3 linked regions of the Homo sapiens genome follow. The protein of the gene in region 1 purifies or fractionates together with the protein of each later gene. This does not show direct contact. Each region holds a gene or a part of one and is shown in the gene's direction. Other genes may lie near its edges.

Evidence for each region. Proteins that work in one complex are often made in the same cells at the same time.
Region 2: the proteins of CCM2 (region 1) and UBE3D purify together in Homo sapiens (affinity purification with mass spectrometry; 2 studies listed by BioGRID and IntAct, with this or other methods). This does not show direct contact.
Region 3: the proteins of CCM2 (region 1) and DDX19B purify together in Homo sapiens (affinity purification with mass spectrometry; 2 studies listed by BioGRID and IntAct, with this or other methods). This does not show direct contact.

What each region holds. Positions count from the first base shown.
Region 1 is NC_000007.14:45,059,197-45,066,304, forward strand, and holds part of CCM2 (cerebral cavernous malformations 2 protein), read left to right. Parts: intron 1-4,721; coding exon 4,722-4,805; intron 4,806-5,266; coding exon 5,267-5,450; intron 5,451-7,108. UniProt on the Homo sapiens protein: Component of the CCM signaling pathway which is a crucial regulator of heart and vessel formation and integrity. May act through the stabilization of endothelial cell junctions. May function as a scaffold protein for MAP2K3-MAP3K3 signaling.
Region 2 is NC_000006.12:83,062,842-83,070,648, reverse strand, and holds the start of UBE3D (E3 ubiquitin-protein ligase E3D), read left to right. Parts: upstream 1-4,807; 5' UTR 4,808-4,930; coding exon 4,931-5,007; intron 5,008-7,403; exon of another isoform or gene 7,404-7,496; intron 7,497-7,807. UniProt on the Homo sapiens protein: E3 ubiquitin-protein ligase which accepts ubiquitin from specific E2 ubiquitin-conjugating enzymes, and transfers it to substrates, generally promoting their degradation by the proteasome.
Region 3 is NC_000016.10:70,330,186-70,335,805, forward strand, and holds the end of DDX19B (ATP-dependent RNA helicase DDX19B), read left to right. Parts: intron 1-1,536; coding exon 1,537-1,699; intron 1,700-2,782; coding exon 2,783-2,974; intron 2,975-3,335; coding exon 3,336-3,397; 3' UTR 3,398-5,120; downstream 5,121-5,620. UniProt on the Homo sapiens protein: ATP-dependent RNA helicase involved in mRNA export from the nucleus.

The sequences.
Region 1 (7,108 bases):
ATTGAATTAGCCTTGCACACCTGGGATAAATCCTGCCTGGTCGTGGTGTATAATTATTAATACATTATTGGATTCAATTTGCTGATTTTTTGTTTAAAAGTTTTGGCCAGGCATGGTGGCTCATGCCTGTAATCCCAGCACTTTGGGAGGCCAAGGCAGGAGGATCACTTGAGCCTAGGAGTTTGAGACTAGCCTAGGCAATGTGGCGAAACCCTGTCTGTTAAAAAAAAAAAAAAGAAAGAAAGAAAGAAAAAACAAAAAATACAGGCTGGGTGCGGTGGCTCATGCCTGTATTCCCAGCACTTTTGAAGGCCGAGGCGGGCGGATTGATTGAGCTCAGGAGTTCGAGACCAGCCTGGGCAACATGGCAAAACCCCGTCTGTCTCTACAAAAAATACAAAAATTAGCTGGGCCTGGTGGCATGTGCGTGTAGTCTCATCTACTAGTGGGAGGATCGCTTCAGCCTGGGAGGTTGAGGCTGCAGTGAGCTGTGATTGTGCCACTGCACTCCAGCCTGGGCAACAGAGCAAGACCCTGTCTCAAAAATGTGTATGTGTGTATATATATATATTTATTTTAGTGGTTGCCTTAGGGTTTGCAATATACATTCACAACTAATCAAAATCCACTTTCAAATAATGCTGTGCTGCTTCACAGGTAGTGCAAATACCTTGTAACCAAGTATTCCCAGTTCACTCCTCCCACTGCTTATAACATTGCTGTCATTTATTTCATTTATCCTTAGGCTACAGTCACCCAATACACAAATTTTATTTTGAACAAATTGTTAATGTGTTAGAGCAATTAAAATAAGAAAAATAAAAGATTAATTTTACCTACATTTATTTCTTCTCTGATGCTTTTCCCCTTCTTTACATAGATCAGAGTTTCTGACCAAATCATTTTCATTCTCTCTGAAGAAGTTCTTTTAACTTTTCTTGAAATGTTAAATCCCTGAGTTTTTGTTTTTCTGATAAAAATCTTTATTTCTCTTTCACTTTTGAAGGATAATTTCACTGGATACAGAATCAAATAGTTCCCTCCTCTCTCTTCTTGCTTGGATGGTTCCTGAAGAGAAATCCAGTGTCATTCTTGTTCTTGCCATTTTATAGGTAGGATGTTTTTTTCCTGTGGAAAAAATTCCCAGATTTCTGCAAAGAGAGAATCTTCCTTTCTAATTTTCTTTTTGTCTTTGATTTCTGCAGTTTGATGTGATTTGCCTCAGTGTAAATTACCTGCTTTTTACCGTTTCATGTTCTCTGACCTTATTGGATCTGTGGATGGGTGTCTGACATTAGTTTGGGGAACTTCTCAGCTCTCATTACTCCAAATAGTTATTGTGTTCTTTTCTTTCTCTTGATATCCTCATTGCACATATGTTACACTTTTTGTAACTGTCCCACAGTTCTTGCATATTCTGTTTTCTTTCTTTCGTTCTTTTTTCCCTTTGCTTTTCATGTTTGGAAGTTTCTGTTGACGTATTCTTAAGCTCAGAGAGTCTCTCCTTGGCTGTGTCCAGCCTCTTGAGCTTGTTGAAGGCAGTCCCCATTGCTGTTACAGGACTTTTGCTTTCTGGCATTTCCTACTGATTGTTGCTTAGGGTTTCCATCTCTGCTTATGCTGCCTATCTGTTCTTACATGATGTCTACTTTTTCCGTTAGAGCCATTACCATATTAATCGTAGTTGTTTTAAATTCCCAATCTGGTAGTTCCAAAATCTCCACTATGTCTGAGTCTGGTTCTGATATGAGGAACTTAGGCGTCAGGTTAATAGGCCTTAGTGTGAGGTACGTTTGGCTGGCTGGGAGTTGGGCTGTGTTTACTGTTTGCTGCCCTTGTGATGCTGGGGGATAAAAATCTCCTGTGTATCCTTGTTTTTGTCTTCCATTGTTTTTGGGTTTTCTTCAAGATTCCTTCTTAAATAGAGTCTGAGGCCTGCAGTTCTTATAGGTGTGCATCCCTGTTATTACACAGGGGTCCTGTTGATGTGGCTTTCAGGGGAGAGGAAGTGTTCTGTAGTCCTGGGATTAGGTCTCAGTGTTTTAGTGAACCTGTGTCCCTGGGCCGTGGCCTTCACATGTGCTTCTCAGTTTTGTTTTTTTCCTCCCCCTTAGGAGAGACATAAACGATAGAGGAGGCAGGAATTGGGTGTTTCCTTACCCCTAGGTGGTTAGGCTCTGGTAAAATAGTTTTCCTTGAGGAAAGCCCTTTGTTAAGGATAACAGAATGCTCTGGTCATGCCTTTTTCTTTCTTTCTTTCTTTTTTTTTTTTTTTTTTTGAGATGACCTCTGAGCCCTTTATATGTTGGTTGGGAAACTGGAGTGCAGTGGCACCATCATGACTCACTGCAGCCTCAACCTCCTGGGCTCAAATGATCCTCCCATCTCAGCCTCCTGAGTAGCTGGCACCACAGGCACACTGCCGTGCCCAACTATTTTGTTGTTGTTGTTGCTGTTGTTGTTCTTGTTGTAGAGATAGGGTCTCACCATGTTTCCCAGGCTGGTCTCAAACTCCTGGCCTCAAGCAAACCTGCCGCCTTGGCCATCCAAAGTCCTGGGATTATGGGCATGAGCCACCACACCTGGCCTGGTTATACTTTTAAATGATGTATTCTTCCCTCCTCCTACCAGAGTATGAGGAGATGTTTCTCCAGTCTCACCCTGAGAGCCTGGTGGGGCTCATGGAGGTAAAACTCAGACTGGTATGGGGACCTCCCCAGTGACTATTCCCCTGGAGTTTTTGTCTCCTACTGGTCCATGCTCAGTCTCTGCCATTTGTCAGTTCCCCTTTCCTCTCTGCTGGTGCTGGCTCTAGGGTTTCTGCCCCGCAATGAGCTGTGATTCTTAGCATTGCATATCTGTCTCTCCATCTTTGGGGTTATTGTTTTTTCATGTGACCTCAATTATCTGATGGATCTGAGAACAGTCATTGATTTTAAGTTTGCCAGCTTTCTTGTTGTGAGGATGGGAGTGATGACTTCTGAGCCTTTACAAGCTGGACAGGAAATTGGAAAGTCCCATTTCATTCTTTTTTAATAGAGAACTTAACTGTGTGAGGTAATGAACAACTGAGAAATGTTGAGTGCAAGAAGCCTGTTCTTGGGAAGAATCAGCAACCCATTTTAAAAAACAGAAACATTGAAAATGTTATGGTGGTTGGTAAGATGCAGGCAGGAGCACAGCAGGTACAGTGCTGCTGCCCACAGCCTTCTACACCTGAGGCCCTGCATTATGGAGGTTTGCTAAGCCAAGTGCCTCATGGCCATGTGTGACCAAAAAAACCTTTTTACTAAATGTTTTGTGCTGCTATAACAGATACCACAGACTGGGAAATTTATAATGAATAGATATTTCTAGGCTGTGCATGGTGCCTCACACCTGTAATCCCAGCACTTTGGGAAGCTGCGGTGAGCAGATTGCTTAAGTCCAAGAGTTCGAGACCAGCCTGGGCTACATGGCAAAACCCTGTCTCTACAAAAATTAGCCAGGCGTGGTGACACACACCTGTAGTACCAGCTACTCAGGAGGCTAAGGTGGGACAATTGCTTTGAGCCTGGGAGGCAGAGGTTGCAGTGAGCCAAGATCACGCCTCTGCACCCCAGCCTGTGTGATAGAGTGAGACCCTGTCTCAAAAAAAAAAAAAAAATCGTATCGTTCTGGAGGCTAGGAGGTTTAAGGTTGAAGGGCACAGCTGGTGAGGGGCTGCATCTGCATCTTATGTTATCCCAGGGCGAAAGGTGGAAGGGCAGGAGAGGGAAGGGGGTCAAATTCATCCTTTCATCAGGAACCTGCTCCTGAGATAACAAACCCTCTCCCAGGATAACAGCATTAATGTGCTCACAAGGGCAGAGCTCTCGTGGCCTAATCAGCTCTTTTCTTTCTTTTTTTTTTTTGAGATGGAGTTTTGCTCTTGTTGCCCAGGCTGGAGTATAATGGCGCAGTCTTGGCTCACCACAACCTCCGCCTCCCGGGTTCAAGCAATTATCCTGCCTCAGCCTCCTGAGTAGCTGAGATTACAGGCATGCACCACCACGTCCAGCTAATTTTGTATTTTTAGTAGAGACGGGGTTTCTCCATGTTGGTCAGGCTGGTTTCGAACTCCCAACCTCAGGTGATCTGCCCACCTTAGCCTCCCAAAGTGCTGGGATTACAGGCGTGAGCCACCGCACCTGGCCTAATCACCTCTTAAAGGCCCCACCCTTAACACTGTTGCATGTGGGGACTAAGTTTCCAGCACATGCTTTTTGGGGGACACATTGAAACCATAGCACTTCATTTCTCTATTTATGCTCATTTCTCAGCTATGTTGACCTTTGCAATTGAGGAAGTTTATTTTTTAGTGAAGTTGTGCATGATGCCATTGTTTTCAGTTTCCCCAGCAGTGACGAGAAAACCCTGACCATCCCTGTTTTAGAATACAGATTCTACCAAAACTAGTAGTTTTGGTACTAGTAGTTTGGGATACTCATTGCAGGACTTTTGATGATGACCTTCACTGTAGAATAGTAGGAGATGGGGCAGCACTGTCCTCAGCCAGTAGAGATTTCTGTAAGAACCCAGGACTCTCTTCCTAGAGTTGGGCCTCCACGCGAGCCGGAATGGAGACCCATGGGCCTGGTGGCCTGAGTATGAAGCACTTGGTTTGTGCTCTCGGTGGTAGTGATGGTGGTGTTGGCTCAGCTCCCATTTCTCATGGCATTTTTTTCTTCACTTTCTTTCAGTATTTAGGTCAGTTAACGTCCATACCAGGATACCTGAATCCCTCCAGTAGGACTGAAATCCTGCATTTCATAGACAATGCAAAGGTAACCCTATCCTCTTAACCCTGTGCACTAGCCCTCAGCCCCCACCAGCCCTTGGTCCCTGTACTCTTGGCCTCGTGGCTGTGAGGAATGAGCCAGTCCCATCACATTATGGGTACACTTGGCTCTTGGCCATAAAGACTATTCCTTAGTATGGACATTAAGTTGATTCTCGACACTTGCTCCATGTGATTTTGGGCTGTTTCCAAAATTTACACTTTCAAGATATTTCAAACCATGTGCCGTAAGTCTGAATCTGAAGGCAGTTCCAGAAGAATCTCCCAAATGGTTTGAACACATTGGTGTCCCTGGAATAAGCACTGTTCTGAGGGGAATAACACTGACCTTATTCACTCAGCATTTGTCACATGTGTGACATCGGCCAGCACAATATTCTCAGGAGAAGCGCCCCATGCCGGTTGACAGCTGAGTCTGTATTTCTGATGCCCTGTGGTTCCTTCCAGAGAGCCCACCAGCTTCCGGGACACTTGACTCAGGAGCACGATGCTGTGCTCAGCCTGTCTGCGTACAACGTCAAGCTGGCCTGGAGGGACGGGGAGGATATCATCCTCAGGGTGCCCATCCATGACATCGCCGCCGTCTCCTATGTTCGGGATGACGCTGCACACCTGGTGGTCCTGAAGACAGGTACAGGAGGTCAGGGGTCAGGAGGGTCCTTGTCCTAAGGAGTACATGTGTGAATTTTATGAAGTTCTGGAGACAGTTTTTGCAGCTTCGTGTTGGGTGCTGCTGTTTGTCACGACCAATAATTGTCTTTCCTGTCTCTGAGATCAGCCAGAAGAGGGCTTGAGATCAGTTACCAGACACTGGGGGTGACTGTCACACTAAGAGCCTTTGGGGACTCAATAATACTGGGATACAGTATTTAGGACTGGTATCCTGTTCCTCTGCCCGGTGGGGCTCCTATTGACTCCCTCTGGGTACAGTGGAGTTGCCCCTCTGCCCAGGTGTGGTGGAGCCTAGAGAGAGTGCAGTGGATAGGGACCTCACCTCAGCTTGACTGATATTTTGAGCTCTGCACAGTGTCCTCAAACCTGGGACAGAAAAGATGAGACCCAGACCTCCCAGGAGCTCTTGGTCATAGAGGTTACTCTCTGTGTGTCCTTGCCGTCTGCTGCTTTCACAATGGGATAGAATTGGGCAGAATTGGGCAGAATTGGGCAGAATGTTATTTTTGGCTGTGGTGAGTACAGTGCTGCCTCACTGGACCCAAGCCCAAGCTGCCCGTTAATTTCCAGCAGCTTCCAGCCCAGGCATTCAGGCCACTGAGGATGAGGGGAGAGACCATGGTTCGCCCTACCTGTATTTTGCCCCTCCCAGTCCTGAGTTTCGAGGCTGGTGTTGCAGTGGGGACAGTATCCTGGGCTCCTTGGATCTCTGCTGGTGACTGGGTTGATCCCAAAGCCTTTCATTTCCAGAGGGCCAGTGGCAGGGTGTGAAGGGGTCACAGTGGGTCTGCCTAGACCACACACTGTGTTTTAGGTAGCAGAGAGGGGAATTTGTTGTTCCACTTAAGGTCAGTAGTTCATTGAGAATCTGGCGAGTGTGTTCATTATTGACCCCTTGAGCCATGAAGCTGCCAGCTTGAGTGCGCTCTTGAGAGCAGTCCACTGAAAGCCTGTGAGTCTAGATGCTTGGGGTTGCTGTGGTCATAAACTACACAGGGAACACTGGCGGGGTTTATGAAGGTGGCTGTTGCTCTGTTTTGTTCTCTGTGTAGCAGTAGCTTAGACTTGCGTACACCCTCCCCAACGCAGGCACACACCACACCTACACACATGTACATTACTCACCCTATCTGGCTTAGAAGGCTGGGTTGGTGGCTCCTTCCAGCCATACTATCCGACACCATGGTGACCCTCCTGTTTTTCTACCTTTGGACCCTGCGGGAGGCCTTAGGCCTGGGACATCCTTAGGGACAAGGAGTGAGGAGACTGGTTTCTGACTCGCTTCTTGCAGGTGTTTCAAGCTGGTAGGGAGGGGAGATAGGCTCCTCCCTTTATTTCTTCTGCTGCATGACAGTTTCTCAGCTTTAATTATTAGAACACATTGCTAAAGGAAATGGATGACAGATTTTTTTTAATGGAGAGAGAATGAGCGCCATAGGAGAAACTTTCCAAAATTAGATGAAAAACAGGACTTCTGGTCTTTGAGAGAACTTTTGATTTAAAGGAAGAGAGTGAATCCCTGTGTCCTGGGGGCCATCTTCCTTGTTTTTGTGGATGCACCGGAGCAGTTGTGTGTCCCCTGTGTTACATAAGGTGTGCTGTGTTTATTTTTTAATT
Region 2 (7,807 bases), on another chromosome or scaffold:
GAGCTAGGTCTTAAAGGTATAATTTAGACACTCAGAAACAGAAGAACATTCTCAGAGAGTAAAAGTATAACTATATGTGCCTGAGTGGTGGCATCTTCCAAATCTTGATTGTGGTGGTAGCTACACGGGTGCATATATATCTACTAAAACTTATTGAAATGTACACTTAAATGAATGTACATCAGTATATATAAATTTTTCCTTAATAAATTTGATACTATATAATTGACCAATGCAATGAAAGGTCATTGAGATTTCAGGCTTGGATAGCTTGGAGAGGAGGAAGTAAATACAATAAAGGAAAAAGGGAAACCGCCAGTTAAAGACAAGGGTATCATATTTTCATACAATTCTCAATAAAAACTGTTAACTATTACACAAAAAATATTAGCTTTATATTTCTACTTAATAGTTTTATTCCAGGGAGATAATTTACCTGAATTAACGCTTATCTATTAAAATTACATGTTCTCTTCCCACCTCTCCTATCTGCAAGCAAAATTGTGCATTAACAGCATTCACCCTAAGAAAGTAATAAAGAATGAACAGAATATCCACACTGGTGGTGTACTAGTGACACTTAACAGACTTTAGCAAAACAGTTTAAGATTGTGTTCAGCACACATCCTGTTTGTAAAGCAATTTAGAAGTAACTGTCTCAAAATTTGTGTTTTAGCCTTTAGCTCTTTTCCATGATATAAGCTCTTAAAATAGGTAGTTATTACACAGTAAGCACATTTTGGGTGGCTTCTACCATAATTTCATTTTAGGAATGCATGACTATAAGGAGAAATCATCACAGCAAAAGTGATGCCATTATCAACAAGTCTTCACTTGTTGGAACCTCAAAATGCCATTTTGAATAAAATCAATAACTACACTCCACCATCAAATTCAAAACATGAATTATGGTTTTAAAAAAGTCAAAAAACCAGAAAGAATAAGATAAGTCTTCTGCCAATAATTAAAGCATTAAGACTCATGGGAACTTAAGTGTATCATTAATATTTTACTAAGAAAAATATAATTTTTTTTATACAAGTGAGTTGCCACTAGATCTTCATGCTCCAAAAAGTTTAAAATGACAGCCAAAAAATAAGCCTAATGCATGGACCTTTACAGTTGAAGAGGACTCAGCTTAAGTACAGCAGTTTTTAAATTTATATTCTATGTAATTATATTCTAAGAGTTGTTAACCATTTGGCCATGAGAAAATAGATCAGGTAAATTTGGGAATGCTAGGATAACCTTCTGGAGATTTACATGTATCAGCATAACAGTAAAGGTTTTGAAGAGTCCTGCCTTTATAAGCAAAAAAGTTAAACCTAGTTTAACCTAGTGTGCTCCCAAATTATTTGCCATTGAACACTGCTTTGGGGAAAGTAAGCCTATTAAATGGTTTTAGAACACTGTTCTGGGGGAAACATCAGTTTGGAAAACCCTGGTCTTTTCAAATTTCCTTAAACAATGACAAAACCGAAGCCTGGAGATCACACCTGGTTAGTAGCAGATTAAAGCACTTGAATCTAATCTCTTCATTCCCAGGCCAGAGCTCACTCCTTTACTTTAACTACAAAATAGGACTTCTTTGAATGTATACAAACATTTAACTGACAACACTTACCTTACATTTAAGATTTGGGTTATGGTGTCACATTTTCTGGTTTGTGTATTAAATCAGGTGTTTTTAGTTCCTTCAGCACTAGGTACCTAATAATCAAGCCCACGTGGAGATTTGCTACTGCTTAACAATTACAGAGAATGATTTAGTTATCAGTTGTGGCCGAAAGTAATCACTAAAATAAAGCATTTAGACTACTCGTGGTTTTAATTTACTCATAACTTCAGTCGGCCCACCTAAATCACTGTGTTATCTATCAGGTGGTGAGTTACTTAGCACATAATGCCGACGTATGTTATTCACTGTAGACCATATTAATACCCACAAACAAAATTAAAATGTGAGAACTTATGTCTGCATAGACAATGGCCAACAACATCAAAACAGATTTTTCTCTCTCTACAGTTCAGGGCCTATTTGTCAGGCAAACAGTTTCCTACATTTTTGGTAATTATCATTTTTTTTGACTGCTTTAGCTGGAGTCGAAGTCATTTTCCCAATCTTTACATTTCTCAAACGCCATAGAACTCTAAGATAGTGTAAAAATGTTCAAACACAATTTACTTAGCTTAAGAAAAATAGTTGTGTGCCATTCCCCGCCCCCCTCAGGGTACAGGAATGGAGGAGGCCCGAACAAGTGACTATTGTTATGTTGCAACTTTAAAAGGCTTAGGAATCAAAGGTGATAATTGTTAACAACACCCGTTTGACTCTTCTGACTTCCTCTTAATAAACTTCGGTACTCCTTTCTAAGCCCCACGGAGAACATGAACCATCGCGGGCCTACGTGTCTCCTCAATGCTAAAAGAACCCACCAGCCGAGAAGGCACAACGCCTCGATTCCTTCAACAAAGAGGGTACTCCGCACGCCTCCATCGCACAGGTGCGACCTCTGCCCCAGCCTTGCGCACCGCTCCGCCCCAGCAGGGGAGGCTCGGGACCTGTCCCCGGCTCCCCGGCCCCGCCTCCGGCCTCCCTCACCTGGGGCCGCCCTCGCGCCTCTGCCCGGCCCAGGCCCCGGCCCCAGCCCTGGCCCTCCAGTCCCCGCGCAGCTCCCGACTCCCCGTAAACCAGAGGGCGGCCGACCAGCTTCGCAGCTCCTGGCGGGGCCGGAGCGGCAACACCCCCGACGCCACAGCAGTCAGACTCGCAAGGCGTCCCCGCGGCTCAGGACCTAGCCGGGCCGAGAAGGATGCTCGGAGCCGGCTACCAGCCTAGCGGCCGCACTGGGGGCAGGGACGCTTTTACCTGCTGCTGGCTCGGCCGCTTCTCGCCGGCGCAGCTCTCCTGGCAACCACGGCAGCTACACCGAGACCGGGAGCCGAAGGGCCTAGTGACAGCTCCCAGAGTGCACCGTGCTCGCGCCCACGCCGGCGTCGACGTCTGAGGCCTTCGATCCCCGCCCCCGATCGGCTTCCTGCCTCCCGGCGCTAGCTGTTGCCACAGCGCCCTCAAGTGGACTGTCGCGGGAAGCGGCCATGGCTACCAATTTCAGGAGTGGCTAGAAAGGGGGTTAGCAGATGTTTTCATTTGAAGAGATAATAGGAACTGAAAACAGCTTTTAAATATTATTTGAATAGTTTCTCAATATTTCATATGAGTAACCTGCATCCCAGAGAGGTTAGGAGACTTGTGAAGTTAGGAGACAAGTAGTTGGTGTCAGATTTGGAACTATTTTGAGTCTAGAGCTCTATCAATCATATCTAGTTACTCCAAGGTAAATTGCACCGTTTTGCCAACACCATACCGTAAAAAAATGAAAGTTTTTACAAATACGTAACTAAATATATAAAAATCTTTTAAGCTAACAAAACAATTATAAAGAGTAAGTTGTGCTACGGAAGTTGTATATTTCAATATAATGTGTCAATATTTAAGCATTCAATAGCCTCGGGTACTAAAGGTGGAAGATATGAAGAGTTGAAATCATCATCCTTCAAATAGATGAATTATTTGAGACCAAATAATAGTAAACTTTATTTTTTTAAGTGAGTTGTTGCTTCCATCTATAACTTCAAATTATTGTGATAGATATAATAATTTGTGCATCAACATAATAAACTTTAATCACCCCAAATACTGATTTTAGAAAAATTGTCAAGCTATTATCTTAAAATATATGACAGGATTTATTTATTTAGAATTTATTTATGGTTTAGGCTGGGCATGGTGGCTCACACCTGTAATCTCAGCACTTTGGGAGGCCAAGGTGGGCGGATCTACCAAAAACAGAAAAATTAGCCGGGCATGGTGGCGCGTGCGCCTGTAATCCCAGCTACTCGGGAGGCTGAAGCAGGAGAATCGCTTGAACCCAGGAGGCAGAGGTTGCAGTGAGCCGAGATCGCGCCACTGCACTCCAGCCTTGGCGACAGAGCGAGACTCCGAAAAAAAATAAATAAATAAAAGCAGCTCCTTGTTTTTAAGAAGCCCTATTGTAATTCTACCCGGTCTTATATTTTAATAGTTCTTCATTATAAGTATTTACATTATACCAGGTTCTTTACTGTGTCAAACTTTTCAAAACTATCTTCTGGTAGTAAACTTCTCCAACTTCTCTTAGTTTTTACTTTTGTGAAAGTGAATAGTGGAGCTGTACATACGTAATCATTCTCATCTTCCTTTTTTACCCCCTAAAAAATGGTTAGTCCTGATAGACTTCAGCCACACTCTTCTGCATTAGGTAACAAAGAACTTCCTTATATTTTTGCACCTGTTTCAATTTTGGAGCTATCCTGTCTAAGTTGAGAAGCAATGGCAAGTCAATTCTTGAAAATTTTGTCGCTTTAGATAGAGGCTAACAAACGACCCTTGTTCATAAAGAGACCAAGATAAAGTGGGTTTGGGGCCGGGAATTCTGTTCTTGCATCTCCTGGGGACAAAGCCCACCTGTAACACTTGCCTCCATCATCTCCCTCCCTTCGAGCTAGCCAAAGGTGTGAACCCTGGGTCTGATTTTTATGGTCATTTCCAGGGATGCTAACGCGCCAAGTCACGCTCATAAGAAGCAGAGTGGGGCGATAGCTAGCCTCTCGCCGCCCACCTTTCTCAGCACTCTGGGCCAAAGCCTGGTTTTGAAAATGCGCGCCCCGCCCCGGCCTCCGGGGTCACGCGCCTTCTCGGTGGTGCACTCTCCGGCCGGCAGGTGGCGCTGTGAGCTGGTAGGCGGCGCCAGCCCTGCGATCTGGCACAGGCGCCTGCGCCGCAGCGGGGCTGCCGCTGGTTGGTCCGCACGTGGAACCTCTCCTGGTCCTGTTGACCCGGGCCCCTCGGAACCTCCAGCTTGGTCCGGTCTGGGACTGGAAGCCTGCCATGGCGGCTTCTGCGGCGGAGACGCGCGTGTTTCTGGAGGTGCGGGGACAGCTGCAGAGCGCGCTTCTGATCCTGGGGTAAGAACTGGGATTCTAGGCGCAGTGCCCAGCTCGCTTTACTGCTGCCCGGGGGTCGGGGGCTGGTGAGTCTCTCTCTGTACGAGGGATTTTGAGTTTCTTCTTTCCAGTTGCGTAGAGCCTCTCGATCACTCAAAGTGAAGCTTTCCCCTGTAGTCGGCTCCGCCACTCCCACCCCTACTGACAGTGTGGGTATCTTTGGGGAGCTTTTTAGAAATTCAGGGTCTCAGCTCCACACCAGACTTATGGAATCAAAACTTATATTTTAACAAGATTTCCAGGAATCAAATGCACATTAAAATTTGAGGAACAGTGATGTAAAACACTGTTGGCAGTGCCCGGCGTTTCCAACAAAACAATGCAAAAAATGATTTGTCTGTCTCTCTTCGGGATCCTCCTTACTGGATCAGTTCCTATGTGAGCTTCTTGTTTTGTAAATAACCTCGGGTCTTTTCGTCCAAAACTGCTCTTTGCAGAGAAACCACACAATCATTCAATAAACGTGAGTTTAGTGAACCACTAAGACAGGTTGTAGACTTCTTACTGGAGCTCGTTCATTTATTCATATTCTTCCTTCCAGTGAGAACGTCAAACTTGTTATTCGCTACACAAATAACTTTTAGGAAAAATGTTCTCTATTTTGTTTGACAGCAGTTTTAATGATTTGTGGTCCCCTTGTCTATTCCTTTGTGATCGCTGTTTCAAAGAGAGTAAGTTAGAAGTTAAAATCCTGAGAATGGTATTACACGGTGCCACAGGTAGATTGATGCTTAATTTTTTCCTCTTCCCTAAATCTGCCAGATATCTGGTGTGGCAATTTGGAATATGGCGTGAGAACTGAGTTCAAATGCTAGCTTCCTCACGAAATTAGAATAATTTAATCTGAATTTCTTCAATCTTGAAATGGGAATAATAGTACTCTGAATGTATTTCTTTTTCTCTTTCAAAATTTATGAATTTGGACAAATATCTCCAATTCTGGTGCACCTTGTAGAGTAATTAGGAACCCAAACCCTACCAAAATAAAACAAAAACCACACACACACAACAAACCCTCCCTTCCTCTCATGCAGGGGCCTTTCACAGTTCCCTTGGACTACTCTCCTTTGTTTAGGCAAGGTACCCGGGTGGCTCATGCCTGTAATCCCAGCACATTGGGAGGCTGAGGCGGGCGGATCACGAGGTCAAGAGATCAAGACCATCCTGGCCAACATGGTGAAACCCTGTCTCTACTAAAAATACAAAAATTAGCTGGGTGTGGTGGCGCGCACCTTTAGTCAGTCCCAGCTACTCAGGAGGCTGAGGCAGGAGAATGGAGTGAACCCGGGAGGCGGAGGTTGCAGTGAGCTGAGATCGCGCCACTGCAGTTCAGCCTGGCAACAGAAAGAGACTCCGTCTCAAAAAATAAAAAATAAAAAGAAAAAAAAAGAAACCTAACTTTGCTGGACTTAGTTTTGCCATTTCTTGAACTACTTATAAATGGATTCATACAATATATACTTTTTTGTTTCTGGCTGCATTCCTTCCATAATATTTTTCAGATTCACGTTCCATCTATGTGGCTGCATATATCAGTAGTCCATTCCTTTTTCTTGCTAAGTTTTCCATTGTATGAATATACCACAATTCATTTATCTGTTCTCCTATTGCTGGATGTTTTTCTTGTTTCTGGAGTTTGCTTATTATGAATACAGCTGTCATAACACTGTTGTATAAATCTTTTTTTGGACATACATTTTCATTTCTTTTTAGGTAAGTACCTAAGAGTGAAATTTCTGGGTCATAGGATAGATGTGCATGTTACTTTGTGAGAAATTGCCAAACAGTTCTCCAAAGTGATTGTACCAGTTTGCACGTTCAACCAGAAAAAAAATGAGTTTCAACTACTTTACATTTTGACTTACATTTAGTATTATCAGTCCTTTTAGTTTGAACCATTCTAGTGTGTGTAAAATAGTATCTTGTGGTTTTAATTTTCATTTTACCGATGACTAATAATGTTGAGTGCCTTTTCACTTGCTTTTTAGCAATTCATATATGTTCTTTTTAAAAGTATCTTCTAATTTTTTTTGCCCATAATCAGATTATTTGTCTTGTTTAATTGAGAGTTCTTTATACTGTCTCAAAACAAGAGCTTTCTCACATAAATGCCTTGTGAATATATGACTATTCTTATCTGTGACTTAACTTTTCATTTTCTTTTCTTTTTTTTTTTTTTTTTTTTTTTTTAGACAGCGTCTTGCTCTACTGCCCAGGCTACAGTGCAGTGGTGTGATCATGGCTCACTGCAGCCTCAACCTCCTGGGCTCAAGCAATCCTCCCACCTCAGCCTCTGGAGTAGCTGGGATACAAGTTGCATGCCACCATGCCCAGCTAATTTTTGTATTTTTTTGTAGAGATAGGGTTTCACCATATTGCCCATGCTGGTCTTGAACTCCTGGACTCAAGCGATCCACCCACTTTGGACTCCCAAAGTGCTGGGATTACAGGTATGAGCCACCATGCCCTGCCTCGTTTTTTTGATAGTGTCCTTTGATGAACAGAAATTTTAATTTTAATGAAGTCCACTCTATCGTTTTTTTATTCCTTAAGGGTTAGTTTTTTTGGTGTCTTAAATCTTTGCCTACCTTAAGGCTGTGAAGATGTTTTGGCAGGTTTATTTTCTAGGAGTTATATCGTTTTAGCTTTCACATTTTGATCTGTGATCATGTTGAATTCATTTTTGTGTTTGCAGTGAAGTAGGGATCAAAGTTCTTTTTTTGGTATAAGGATATTCATTTATTCTATCACCATCAGTTGA
Region 3 (5,620 bases), on another chromosome or scaffold:
TAAGGTTTTAGTGAGTCGTAAGAGGGAGACTTTGATTCCACTTCTTAGTGATTACTTGGAGAAAACCCCAAGTAACAGCCAATGAAATAATTTTTAGATTTTTAAGAATATAAGCTGGGCGGCTGGCACGGTGGCTCATGCCTGTAATCCCTGCACTTTGGGAGGCCAAGGCGGGTGGATCACCTGAGGTCAGGAGACCAAGACCAGCCTGGCCAACATGGTGAAACCCCATCTCTACTAAAAATACAAAAAATTAGCCGTGCGTGGTGGTGTGCACCTGTAATCCCAGCTACTCAGGAGGCTGAAGCAGGAGAATCGCTTGAACCCGGGAGGTGGAGGTTGCAGTGAGCTGTGATTGCTCCATTGCACTCCAGCCTGGGTAACAAGAGCGAAACTCTGTCTCAATACAAAAACAAACAAACAAACAAAAAACCAACAACAAAAAAAGAGTATAAGCTGGGCAAGTACCTGTAGTCCCAGCTACTCAAGAGGCTGAGGTTGGAGGATCGCTTGAGCCCAGGAGTTCAGACCAGCATGGGCAACATAGTGAGACCTCATCATTAAAAATATATATATGGCTGGGCACAGTGGCTCACGCCTGTAATCCCAGCCTTTTGAGAGGCTGAGGTGGGGGGATCTTCTTGAGCCCAGGAGTTCAAGACCAGCTTGCACAACATAGCAAGACCCCATCTCTACAAAAATTTTAAAAATTAGCCAGGCGTGGTGGTGCATGCCTGTGGTCCCAGCTGCTTGGGAGGCTCAGATGGGAGGATTGATTGAGCCCAGGAGGTTGAGACTGCAGTGAGCTGTGACTGTGCACTCCAGAGTGGGCAAGAGAATGAGATCCTGTCTCAAAAAATTTAAATTTAAAATAAAATTTTAAAATATATATGTTGTTTGTTTGTTTTTGAGATAAGGTCTTGCTCTATCATTCAGGCCAGAATACAGTGGCATGGTCATAGCTCACTGCAGCCTTGGCTCTTGTTACTAGGGCTACAGGTATGTGCCCCATGCATGTCAGCCTAATTTTTATTTTTATTTTTGTAGAGGTGGGGTCTTGCTATGTTGTCCAGGCTGGTCTCAAACTCCTGGCCTCAAGCAATCTTCCAGCCTCAGCCTCCCAAAGCCTAAGACTACAGGCACGAGCCACCATATCTGGCAAGAACATAGACTATTTAGGAATGAAGATCTTTGGCTAAAGCCACACTCTTCCTAGATACAAAAGTAACAGCAGTTACATAACTTATCTAAAAAGAAAAAAATCATATGACTAAAATTCTATTTGAAAGAAAAATTTTTTTTTGAGATGGGTTCTTGCCATGTTGTGCAGGCCAGCCTCGAACACTTGGGCTCAAGTGTGTAGCTTGGACTACAGGTGTGTACTACCATGCTTCATTGAGAAATTTTAAGCCTAACCTCCTAACTGGATTTAGCAGGGCCTTCATGTATTTTAATCGTGGCAAGCCACTTTTTAGCAGTTGTCTTCCTTTTGTTTTTAACAGGTCTCTTCATAAAAAACAATTCTTTTCACTACAGACTCGCAAAACAGCTAGTTGGCTGGCAGCAGAGCTCTCAAAAGAAGGCCACCAGGTGGCTCTGCTGAGTGGGGAGATGATGGTGGAACAGAGGGCTGCAGTGATTGAGCGCTTCCGAGAGGGCAAAGAGAAGGTTTTGGTGACCACCAACGTGTGTGCCCGCGGTGAGCAGAGGACGTGTCCCACCTGGTCTGCCAGGCTTGGGGTCCCAGGCCCAGTTAGAGCCAGAAATCCTTGTACACAGGGAAGTCGGATGGTCTCAGGGAGATGGGTGGGGTTGGTGACACTATTCCTTTCTAGGAGAGACTGTTTGGATTTCCCTCAGGTGATAAGAACTCCCACAGAAGCCAGGAGTCCTGACTTGGTGGAAGGAAATGTACAGGCATCTGACTGGTAGAGAACAGAGCCTGCTCTTCCAGGGATGCCCATCTCCAGAACATTGTGTCTCCCAGAGGCTTACTGACTGATTTCATAATTTTGTTGGCACCTGCCAAAGTTTTGTTCTTTTCCTCCAGGTTCTGCTGTATGCCTGTATGTGCCCTCTCTTGTACCCAATTCCCAGAGTTGGCCTGTCCCAAATGTATTTATTTATTTTTTTGAGACAGAGTCTTGCTCAATGGCCCAGGCTGGAGTGCAGTGGCACAATCTCAGCTCACTGTAACCTCCGCCTCTCAGGTTTAAGTGATTCTCCCGCCTCAGCCTCCCGAGTAGCTGGGATTACAGGCGCCTGCCACCAAGCCCAGCTAATTTTTGTATTTTCAGTACAGATAGGGTTTTGCAGTGTTGGCCAGGCTAGTCTTGAACTCTTGACCTCAGATGATCTGCCTGCCTCGGCCTCCCAAAGTGCTGGGATTACCGGTATGAGCCACCGCACTCGGCCCCCCAAATTCTTTCCCTTTACCCGAAGTTGGTATGCATTGACTTACCTGTGGACAACAGTGATTTTTGTCTCCTGTCCTTACTTCTCTCTGTCTCCAACTCTCAGGGACTCATTCATCACCTCTCCCTGCACCCCACCCCCTGACCCGTGCTAGTTTGGTATCTATGCCTGTAGCTTTGCTTTGGGGCATCATCTGAATCTCATACTGCACGGCCTTTCAGATCTGGCTTCCTGCACTCAATGTCATGCACGTCTCTTAGTGCCGTGTTCCCTTAATGCTGAGTCATGCTCCATTGTATGGATGGACCACATGACTGATTTGCCTCCTGTCCTTAGTCCTCTCAGCCTCCAACTCTCCTTCCTGCAGGCATTGATGTTGAACAAGTGTCTGTCGTCATCAACTTTGATCTTCCCGTGGACAAGGACGGGAATCCTGACAATGAGACCTACCTGCACCGGATCGGGCGCACGGGCCGCTTTGGCAAGAGGGGCCTGGCAGTGAACATGGTGGACAGCAAGCACAGCATGAACATCCTGAACAGAATCCAGGAGCATTTTAGTGAGTCCCGGGGAGGGTCCTGTGCCTGGCGCCCTTTGCTAAGTAGGGCGGGGTGGTGAAAGGGGTAGGATCTTCTGTAGCCCCAAGAGAGGCTCTGTCCCTAGCACACTCCCCTCCTTTCTGACCATATGGCAGTTCTCAGGGAGCACACCTGGAGACTTCAGGACCCAGGGACTCCAAGAACAGCTCCCCTGTGACTGGGCTTCGGGGCGTGGGGCTCTGACTGTTGCTGTCAGTGACTAGGGGCCCTGCTGCCCCCTGCTTAGGCACCCGGAGCCTTTGGGGCTGAATGAATGATTGCTGTGGCCCAAGATGGGGCACATTCCTGGGCAGGGTAGAGACCTGTGTATCTTTCCCCCAGATAAGAAGATAGAAAGATTGGACACAGATGATTTGGACGAGATTGAGAAAATAGCCAACTGAGAAGCTCCACCAGCCACTGATGCCAGCCCTGGCACTGCCCCTGCACAGGAGACAAGTGCGTTCAGGGCACAGGCCCCGACATCACCCCAAGGACAACGGCACAAGTAGAGAGAAACTACCTACCTCACTTCAAATTATGTTTGGACTTGACAAAAATGTATGCAAATGATGGGGGATGGTAGAAAAAAATTATTTACACAACCTTGGAAGATTAGGCATGAATACACAGAGATTTACCTTTTGGAAGTTTCATCTTTTAATTTGGCCAGTGTTTCCTTCATGCTAATCTAGATGCTGTGGCTGATTACTTGCCCAGGATCTCCTGTGGCAGCCTCTGCTTGTTCTCTGGCTTGGAGTGGATGGGGCAGCCTCCAGCTCCTGTGGAAGTAATGGAATAGTGGTGGAAAGGGAACACAGAGAGGGAGGCTTCCAGTAAGATAGGTGTGTAAGCCCAGCCATCATGTTTGGAATGGCATGAGGCAGCAGAGGAGGCCTGAGAGCTGCTGCTTTGGACTTGGGGGTGGGACAGCTCATCTGAGTATTGCCAGCCCCCTGTCCTAGTGCCCACAGCAGAAGGGAATTTGTTAAATAAGCATGGACCAAAATGCCAACCTCTCGGTTGTGTATATGGGTTTGTGTCACAGGACTGTGACCTGTTCTCGGTGGGTGCAGTCTGTGTAGAGTGCACATCTGATTATTGGTGGGTCCTGTGCCTGTGCTTAAGCAAGTCCTGTGGAGAAGTCATCATGGAGAATTAGTGGTGGCCCTAGCGTGCCACAAAACCTGGTCTCATGAGCATTTGCAACATCCCTTTTACATCCTTAATATCCCCTTACCCCACAGTAGCCCCAAACAAATGTGATCTGAGGTTTAGATCCTCAGTGAAAATTGTGGTTTCAAGTCTTCATGGCCAGCCTCAAGGCAGTTCTAGATGTGATCAGCAGTAGTCACAAATTCTTGTTTTGTCTCCACACCCAGAAGGCAAGTTTTGTCAGAGCTGGGGAATAATTTCAGATATTTGACATCTTGATTATAAAGGGCTTCTGAACATCTGTGTTTACTGCCTTTGGAATACAAACAGGTGCAACTGAGGGACTAGCTACACTACCACCATTTATCTGTCCAAGGCAAGAGTATCACCAAGGCCTTTGCTCCAGCCTTACTTGGCATCTTTGCGCAAGATAGTCAGAGCAAACAATAGTAATGGACACTTCTCACACCTGGCCAAGGCTGTTGGTACCCACGAAATGACAGCAAAGATGAGAGGAAACTGAATTGCAAGAGCAATATGAAACCCCAACCAAGAGGAGTACTCTGCAGTTCTTTGGCTTTGGTATAGAGTGGCCACTTTCTCTAGGACCTGGAAGAAGAGTTTGATGGCTAAGAACGATTGTGATCCTAGGTCTTCTTTGTACGCATCTCCGTATTTAGGCCAGATCTGCCTCCTGGGAAGGGAAGGGGCCAATGTCAGCCTCCAGGTGATTTCTTTAATCTGACATTACAAAGAGACCAACAGACTGCCAATTCTACCACATTCCCCTGGTGGGTACTCGACTATGTAGTTTTCTCTATGCTTCTGGTCAACTCTGACACATCTTGGAATTCTTGTAATAAGAAAAGAAATTTTTATACTTTTTTCTCCTTCCCTGAGTCCTGTGGACCAACCCTGAAATACTAAAAACAAGGGCAATAATTAAAGAAGTATAGACTCTTTAGTAGGCCACAGGCAGAGCAGACTCCCACCTTCTCAAGCACATACAACCTCTCTACTGGTGTAGCCCCAAGTGTGAGAAGGAAAGTGGGAAGCGGGGTGCTGCAGACTCTTTGACAGCAGGAGGAATGGGAATCTGGTAGAAGTATAGGTCAACAGTTCTTTTTTTTTTTTTTTGGAAACGGAGTCTCACTCTGTTGCCCAGGCTGGAGTGCCGTGGCACGACCTCGGCTCACTGTAACCTCTGCCTCCCAGGTTCAAGCGATTCTCCTGCCTCGGCCTCCTAGGACTACAGGTGCACGCCACCGCACCCAGCTAATTTTTGTATTTTTAGTAGAGATGGGGGTTTCACCATGTTGGCCAGGCTGGTCTTGAACTCCTGACCTCAAGTGATCCACCCACCTTGGCCTCCCAAAGTGCCAGGATTACAGGCGTGAGCCACCGCGCCCAGCCAACAGTTATTAATCAGGGGTCTTGGACCTCTAAGAATTCACTGGATGGGTTTCATGGAG